2 separate regions of the Homo sapiens genome follow, and region 2 is linked to region 1. Evidence: fine-mapped expression QTL. A gene starts in region 1. The other region holds a variant in brackets. All regions are shown on one strand. Distances are from middle to middle.

Region 1 (4,000 bases):
AGTCAGAAAAAAGTTCACGGGTAGCACACGAGAGCTGAGGAGCATGCAGCTGAGACCGCAGTGAATATTTGGTGAGTGTCTGGGTTGATTATTACTACATATCAAACTACCTCAATCCCCAGTGGCACGAAACAATCCTTTTATCATAGCTTGTGGTTTATGGGTCAGGAAGTTGTGGGTGGTTTGTCTCTGCTCCACGTGGCATTAGCTGTGGCAGCTGCAGGTGAAGGATCCACCTCCGAGAGGGTGTCTTCACCCCTCTGCCTGGTGCTAGATGCTCTGGGGGCCCTGGGTGTTGCTTGCTTGGACTTCCTCACAACATGGCAGCTACAAAGCATCTCATGACCTAGCCTTGGAAGTCTCAGGACATCATTTCCACTGCATTCTATTGTTAAGTCCATCACTAGGCCACCCCATATTCAAGGGGAGGGAAGGAATAGACACATCTTGGATGGAGTTTGGGGTGTGTATGTGTGTGTGTGTGTGTGCATGTGTGCATGCCCATGAGGCAGAGGGCAACCTAGGAGGGGCCTGGCCTGGCCACAGCCCACCTTCCAGGTCAGATTGGGAAGGGGCAGGTGGTGGGCAGGAAGTAGAGGAACCTGTGTTTTGCCTCCAGCAAGGAGCCCAGGAAAGCAGCCCGGCCTCGGGGAGCCGTCCCACAGAGACGTCTCTCGGGGAACATCCTACTGGGTAGCAGAGTCTCCAAAAAGTAAAAAGAATCTGACAGCCCCTTCTCTGCCCTTCTCCTACACTCCCTCCATAGCACATGGGTCTGGAAGGGGCTGAACTTGAGCTAACTTTGAGGGCCACCCAGCCACAGTGGCCTGGGAAGACTGACCCAGCTGGGGTGATGAGCAATTTGGCAGGTACCAGGGAAGCTGGGGGACTGCCTGGGGACCACTGGTGTCCTTCCCATCTTTAGCACCAGTCAGACCTCCAGAACCTTGACTCAACCCCGTGGCACCTTGTATACTGAGATGTATTTCCTTGTGGAATATTCGAAGTGCGTGTAAAGGCATCCTGAGGTTTCCTGAGTTTGAATCAGTGAGAAATCATGCTGTGGCCATCATAAATCCACATCCTCCAAGGGGAATGGGCCACTGAAACAAAAATGATTCTCCCCTTAGAGGAACAGACCAAGTCATGTTTCTGGACCCCTAACTCTGAGGCATGAGATGTGAACACACGGGTGGGAGAGTAGGTGCCTGGCCATGTCCTGTCACATCCCGGATGCTCAGTGCATGTGGCTGTGTATGTGTTGTCTTTGACATTTGACCTATTCCAGAAATGGGACGTTCTTCCCTAGACCAGGAGGAAGGGCTCTCTTCTGTTGTATATCTCTGCCCAGGGCTTGCCCGCATGCCTCTGTGTTTGTTTGTTGGCTCATTTGTACCCTGGCCCTTTGTATCCCCAGCCCCACCCCACAGTATCCAGCAGCCAGACACCTGCTATCCCCAAATGCTGCCACAAGCTCAGCACCAAACCTTGATTTCTCCAAAGCCCTTTTACGTCAACTCCTTCATCTCCTCTCTCCCCTTCTTCCCTTCTCTTTCACTCCATCCTCTTCCTTCCTGCTGTCTTGCCTTCCCTCCTTTGTTGCCTTTACTTCTCCTCTTCCCCTTTCTTCCTCCTCCCTTGCTCCTCACTCTTTGTCTCCCAACTATGCGTCTCCTCGTCCTCGTTCCCTGCCTCTGTCTCTGACCCACTGCATCTCTCTCCTGTCTGGCTCTCCCCTGGGTAGTTCCAGAAACATACCCATATATGGCCTCCATGTCAAGGATCACAAATGATGACATCACGTGAGGGCCAAAGCTCCGGGATCCTCTCTGAAGTGAGAGTCTGTATTCGATGCACCCGGAGGAACGGAAGGCAGGATTGCAGCTTCCTCAGTGCAACCTCCAAACAGGAAATCTGAGATGTATAACATCTTATAGTTTGGCTTGTCAACGTTGGTCATGCGGTGGCCCCAAAATAAACTCCCTGCTTCAAAGGACAGCGTTTCAGAACTGCCTGGCAGAGCAGCCAGAAGCTTGGGGCCAGGGCAGAAGGAAAACTCGGGGAGCATGTTCTGAATTAAGACACTTTCAAGAAAATCCTTTGTATTACCCCTGAATTGTACCCTTGTTTCAGAGCCTAACAGGTAATGCATGCTTTCAACTTTCTTATACAGATCTTGCAAAAGATTCTTTGGCTGGTGGGGATTTTCGGCTGCAGTACTTACTGGAAACCGCTTGTAGTCAAACTGTGATGTTGCTTTTCCCTCTCTCTCGTATTTTCTTGAGTTATACAGCACGCTGGTGACTTTCGTTTTGGATGCAATGAACAGAGACTCAGCAATTTGCATGTACTTACCCATTCTTCTGGAGGACTCTGGCTCAGAATATCACTCTGCTGTGCACTTCTAAAAATGGAAATGCAAAAGGACTTATCAATGATGCTATTGTTGGGTCTGTAGGTCTTGGGCGGTATCTGTGTCAGACAAGTGACTTTCAGAAATGCTTTCAGGCCAGGCGCACAGATAGAGGTTTTCATGAGTGGGAGTTAATTTAATGTAGCTGTTGCAGAGTGCCTAGGCATGCACGGTATTGTGGGAGACCATAGCAGCCAAGGTGCCATGTGCTCTGCTTTCAACTGTTTGGGGATTAGGAGAGGAAATGGAGGAATGTTATTTATGTGAGATCCAACAAAGCTGTGGAATGCAGGGATGCAAGAATACCATGCATGTGTGTGCACACGCATATGCATGACACATTTAAGGAGGCCATGGCCTTTGAAAGGATGGGTGGGATGCCTCAGGGTGGAAACAGAGACCTCCAGGTGGAGGAGCAGCTTGGGCAAAGGCAGGGAAGTCAAGGGACCTGGGGTGATGATGGAAAGTGAAATGTGGCTCTGGCAAAGGGTTCTGCATGTGAAAAATGGGGGTGAGGCTAGAAGGGGAGGCCAGAGGGAGAGGCACATCCTTCCAGGCCAAGCAAGAAGTTGGAACACTTTCTGAGAGTTTTTGAGCAGAGGACGGCATGCACATAGCCACATGCATTGAGCATCTGGGATATGAAGGGACACAGCCAGGCACCTACACTCCCACCCGTGTGTTCACATCTCAGGCCCCAGAGGTGGAGGCCCAGAAACATGACTTGGTTTCTGGTGCCTCTAGGTGGAGAATCATTTTCATTTCAGTGGCCCATTCCCCTTGGAGGATGTGAGATTTGGCTTCGGTGGCTCTTCGGGAAGCCAGGGGTATGCACTGGAATGAGGAGGCAAGGAGGCTGGTGACTCCTAGGGAGGGCAGGTAAATGAGGAAGGCCTGAAGCAGGGCAGAAGCTGAGCCCCTGCACAGGACAGGAATGCTCTTCTGAAGATAAGCTTGTTTCGTGAGGCGAGGGCTTGAGGGGGCTCAGAGGGACGCAGGCAGAGCCAGCTGGGGCCAGCACCCCCGCCACAGCCCTGACCTCTGCCTGGGCAGAAGCACCATGAGGCAGACAGTGGCAGATGCTCGAGGCACTTCCAAAACAGTTGGACGGGTCCTGACAGCTGGTGGCAGGCCCATGTGCTGCACAGCGTCCCCAAGAAGCTGGCAGCAGCTCCGCTGGGTGCCATGCTGGTTTGCATCATCTGTTCTTGCACAAACAGGCCGGGTCATGAGTGCCTTGTGGTGGCGGGGGTGGGGGACACTGTCTAACCCACGCACGGTGACCTCACAGTGAACAACAACACAGGCCATACCAGCAAGCCTTTGTTGAGCACTGGCCCAAGCTTGTGTGCAGATTTCTCTCACTGACTTCGGTCAAGGCTACCATGAGTTACAGGTGATCGTTACTCCCATTTTCAGGTCTGGAAACAGGTTATGAGAGCTTAAAAGTCTTGCTTAAGGCTGGACGGCTGCAAGTGTTGGAGTCAGGAATCTGACCTTTTGGTCTGCAAGGTCCACATTCAAAGCCACAGCGTCCTGTGGCCTCTCAAGGTACTGTGGCAGTGGTAAACAGGACCATCGTGCACC
Region 2 (4,324 bases), 30 kb after region 1:
GATAGCAGTAAGGATCAATATTAATAGCATGGTAACATTAGCAATAATAATAGCAATATTAATAGCAAATTGCAATTAATAATGTTATTGGGGTTTTCCTTTATTAGGGGCTCTGTGCCCTCCTAGACCTGTGAGGCCTCTCTCAGGGCAGAGCCCAGGCCCTCTTACATGGAGTGAGGGTTAAGAGCATGGCCTCTACCATCAGAATATCCACCATGGCCTCTGCCATCAGACCATCTGGGTTCAAGTTTGGCTCCATCTTTATGAAATGGGTGGTCTGAGGCAAGTGGTCTAGGTGTTCTGTGCTTCACTGTCCCCATCTGTAATCTGGAGATAAGAGCAGTACTGACCTCACAAGGTGACCACCCACTGTGGATTCAGATATAGCCTGTGGAAAGCACGATGTTCAGCACGTAGTAGGTGCTCAGGAAAAACCAGCATCATCGTGGCTGCTTGTAGCCTCTCAGAGGCCTCTGTTCGGGCTGGCAGGCCCCTGGGTCTTTTTTTTTTTTTTTTTTTTTTTCCAGGCGGAGTTTCACTCTTGTTGCCCAGGCTGGAGTGCAATGGTGCAGTCTCGGCTCACTGCAACCTCCACCTCCTGGGTTCAAGCGATTCTCCTGCCTCAGCCTCCCGAGTAGCTGGGATTACTGGCGCCCACCACCATGCCCAGCTAATTTTTGTATTTTTAGTAAAGACAGGGTTTCACCATGTTGGCCGGGCTGGTCTCGAACTCCTGACCTCAGGTGATCCGCCTGCCTCAGCCTCCCAAAGTGCTGGGATTACAGGCATGAGCCACGCCTGGCCAGGCCCCTAGGTCTTGATGTTGTTGAAAGAAGCTGGGGGTAGCCCCAGGTAGACTCCTCCTTCCTAAGGGTCGTTGTTAAAGGTCCCGTGCATTACCGTGGTTAGCACAGCAGGCCCACCACGCGGTGGCGTTACATTGAGGACAGCAACTTCCCGGTCACTTGGCCACTTGCTGATCTCTTCTCCTTCCCCAGGTGCTGACATCAACACGCAGGCCAGCGACAACGCGTCTGCCCTCTACGAGGCCTGCAAGAATGAGCATGAGGAGGTGGTGGAGTTTCTGCTGTCACAGGGTGCCGACGCCAACAAGACCAACAAGGACGGCTTGCTCCCGCTGCACATCGCCTCCAAGAAGGGCAACTACAGGTCAGCCCAGGCTCCGCCAGCACCCAGGCAGCTCTCCCGAGGCCCACACTGGGAGTAGGGGATTGGAGGGGTGGGCCTGCCCTGAATGTCCCACCCACAGGATTAGGGAGGCCCAGGAGAGGTCAGAATGGACATCACCTTTCCCATGGAAAGGAGGGAAACCCCTTAGCAGTTAGCAACATGGAGTGAATGCCTGTAACAACAGCAACTGAAATAATAACAGCAAACCCTTATGCAGCGCTTACCAGTACTTCACATCAGAAACTTATTTAATCTGCTTAACAGCTCACTGAGGTGGATATTATTATCTCTGTTGTTTAGATGAGGAAGCTAAGACACAGAGAGGTTGAGTGACTTGCCCAAGGTCACACAGCTCATAGGCGGCAGGTACTCACCTGCTCCAAAGGTCACAGCTACAGGAATTCTATCCTGGGGGGCAGATATGAGTCTGAGCTAATGAATATTTCCGGGAGTACAGGAATGCAAGGATAACCTCCCAGGCAATTAGCAAGCATGCAAGGAAAACCTACAATAACACAAATAGCACCAATGATAAGAACTAGCAGTTATTGAGCAATTACTAAGTGCTAGATACTCTGAGTGAGAAGAGAGAGGCTTAAGTTCCCAAGGAGCAATCTGGAGGAAGGGAAGAAGCACAGACATGTGAATTCATGACATCATGAAAGAGCATGCCGAAGAGCTGCATGGCTCCTGTGGAGACAGACGAGCCGGGGCTAGAGGCAGAGGTGTGCTAGAGCCAGCTCGTGCCTGTTCTCAGGAACCGACTGCACACCTCTTCCCAACTCTGTGTTTACTGACCTCACATTGATAGCTTAAAATTGGCCATGGGGGAATATTTACATGGGGAAATAGGCAAATGCTACAAACCAGAGTCCTTTCCCCCTTCTCTGCCCTTGCTTG[A/G]GCCAGTTTTTAAGCATTCCCAGCAGCACTGCTACATGGGGAAGCCTGGGCCGCAGAGGTGAAGCTCCAGCTGCCCTTGAAGGATGGACAGGGCTTGGTCATTTCCAGAGTGTGACTCATCTGCCTCCCATGTGAGCCTCACACTGTGCTGCGGGTATGCGGGTCAACCCGGATTTTCATTTTACAGGACAGGAAACGAAGACTCTGGTAGTTAAGAGATTTGCCCCTTGAAAGCCCCGTCCCCAGGGCTAGGACTTAAACCCCAGCATCTGACCCTTTTTGCTGGACAGTGCTTCCCAAACTGTCCATTCACAGATTTTCTTCCTGATTTTAAATATCTATACTCTCATCGTTTAGTAATTTTTCCTTTAAATAATGTTTTTACTTACAATGAATTTATTTTGAAGAGGAAACATTTATCACACTAGTATGTTATCCATTTACAATCAATTTTAAAAACATTTCATTTAAAATCCCATCTCATGTACCCTGATGACACTTGGGGAAACACACCCGAATCTTCCAGACAGGCAGGAGAGTGAGAAGCACAGACTGCGTGTATTGGGGCATGTTTGTTGTCTTCACTAAGGCAGAGGGAAATGGGGTCAAAGTGACATTCCAAAGACTGAAATGAAGACTCAAGGCTTCAGAGCCGCCCCTTAAAGCTCCAGCCCCTTCTGTGCAGGTTGCCTGCACCAAGACCACCCAAAGATGCCCTCCCCACTCCCCACACCCCCCAGTACATACACAGAGGAGACCCAGCCTTTTCTGGACAGCACAGCTGTCCACAAGGCTGACAGATCTGGGTGTGAATCCCTGCTGAGGCCATTGGGAAAGTTGCTTAACCTTGCTGAGCCTCATTTTCCTCATTTATAAAATGGGAAATGGTTACACCCGCCTCATGGGGTTGTCGGAGGACCAGTAAAATGGATACGTACGGATATAGAATGGAAAAAAGCACCTAGCAGAGCGCCTGCACCCAGTGTGTGCTCAGGCGTCCTATGCTCACCCACTCTTACTTAGGGAGAGTGCATTCCATGATTGAGCGGTTCAGACAGCAGCTCAAGCCAGGCAGTGGGCATGGACAAGACGGCTCCTTTCTCTTGAGTTCCACAAATCATCGGGCATCAGTCAGAGTTGGGCAAACACAGTTTACCTTGAGCCTGACCCCAGAGAGATCCAGAGTGAACACACGGGAAGTGGGTGCACTTTGGAAATCTCCTGGCCCACTGCCCCCCAATTCTAGCCTGCACATCCATGTCCCTCTGGGCTATTTTTAAAATGCCATATCAGATCCGGTGAATCAGAATCTCCAGGAGAGAAGGAGCCCCACTGTCTCTTTGAAAAGCTCCCTGAGCAAATCAGATACAGCCTGTCTATAGCTGCAGGGACCATTGATCTAATTCAGGCCCTGGTTTTACAGAGAAGGAAGCCAAGGTCAGATATGGAAGTGATTTTTGAGATAGCGGCAGGGCTGGGACCTTCATCTGGGCTGCCTTCAAGTGAACCCAGAGGTGTTGGCAGTCTGGCCCCAGCTGGAGGAGAAGCTGAAGGGGCACTAGGTGGCCTTGCGGATGATCAGAGAGTAAGGCGCGTCCTGCCTGGAACACTGTGTCCATGGCTGATGTTCCTGTAAACTCATCTACCTTGGATTCACGTGGATTCCCAGGGCGAATTCCCTGGTTATTCAACCTCCACCCCCGGGCCCCATTTCCCTCTGTCCCCCAAGGCTCAGAGGGGCCTGGGCCACTTTTTAGGGCTAAGCAACAAAGGGTTAAAGCCTGGTTCCCAGCAGCTTCTGCCACCAGGCAGAGCCCATGGCCAGCAAGCCCCGAGCTCATCACTCCCTCCCTGGGCATACAGCATTAAAGGCCCTCTGCTCGGGGATTTGATGTGACATTCCATAGGCATTCCACACTCTGCCACCTGCCAACACACCCTGGCCATCCGTCCCAGGCATGGAAGGCAGCACCAGGAGCCGAAGGCTGTTTGCCAGATGGTGTCTTCTCGTCAGCACACTTAACCGCAAGGGGTGACATGCGGGTGTGCTGAGAAAGGAGCCCTAAAGTCCCGATGTCGCAGTCACCTCCAAGACACGCATTTTCCTGTTGTTCATTTCCAGTTTAGCAAAGCCACCGTATGAAATCAAAGATCAACACCAAAGATAGACGTATTAAGAAACTGTGTGAGTTAGCGCAGAGCAGATGCCCCAAGAATAGCACCCAAAACAGTA

The links. PIP is the estimated chance that this variant, and not a neighbour inherited with it, causes the effect.
Region 2: its variant is the best candidate, but not a certain one, in a credible set for the expression of ASB2 in whole blood (INTERVAL, PIP 0.67).

What each region holds. Positions count from the first base shown.
Region 1 is chr14:93,974,577-93,978,576 of GRCh38, reverse strand. ASB2 (ankyrin repeat and SOCS box containing 2) reads left to right here and starts at 2,007. Exons shown (of 10, transcript NM_001202429.2): 1 at 2,007-2,143. It overlaps LOC107984663 (a long non-coding RNA gene), which reads left to right. Exons shown (of 4, transcript XR_001750861.2): 4 at 1-1,152. RefSeq lists an enhancer at 2,955-3,526.
Region 2 is chr14:93,944,195-93,948,518 of GRCh38, reverse strand. ASB2 (ankyrin repeat and SOCS box containing 2) reads left to right here. Exons shown (of 10, transcript NM_001202429.2): 7 at 999-1,170. It overlaps MIR4506 (microRNA 4506), which reads left to right and starts at 217; the gene lies at 217-293. The variant A/G (reference allele first, on the strand shown) is at 2,092.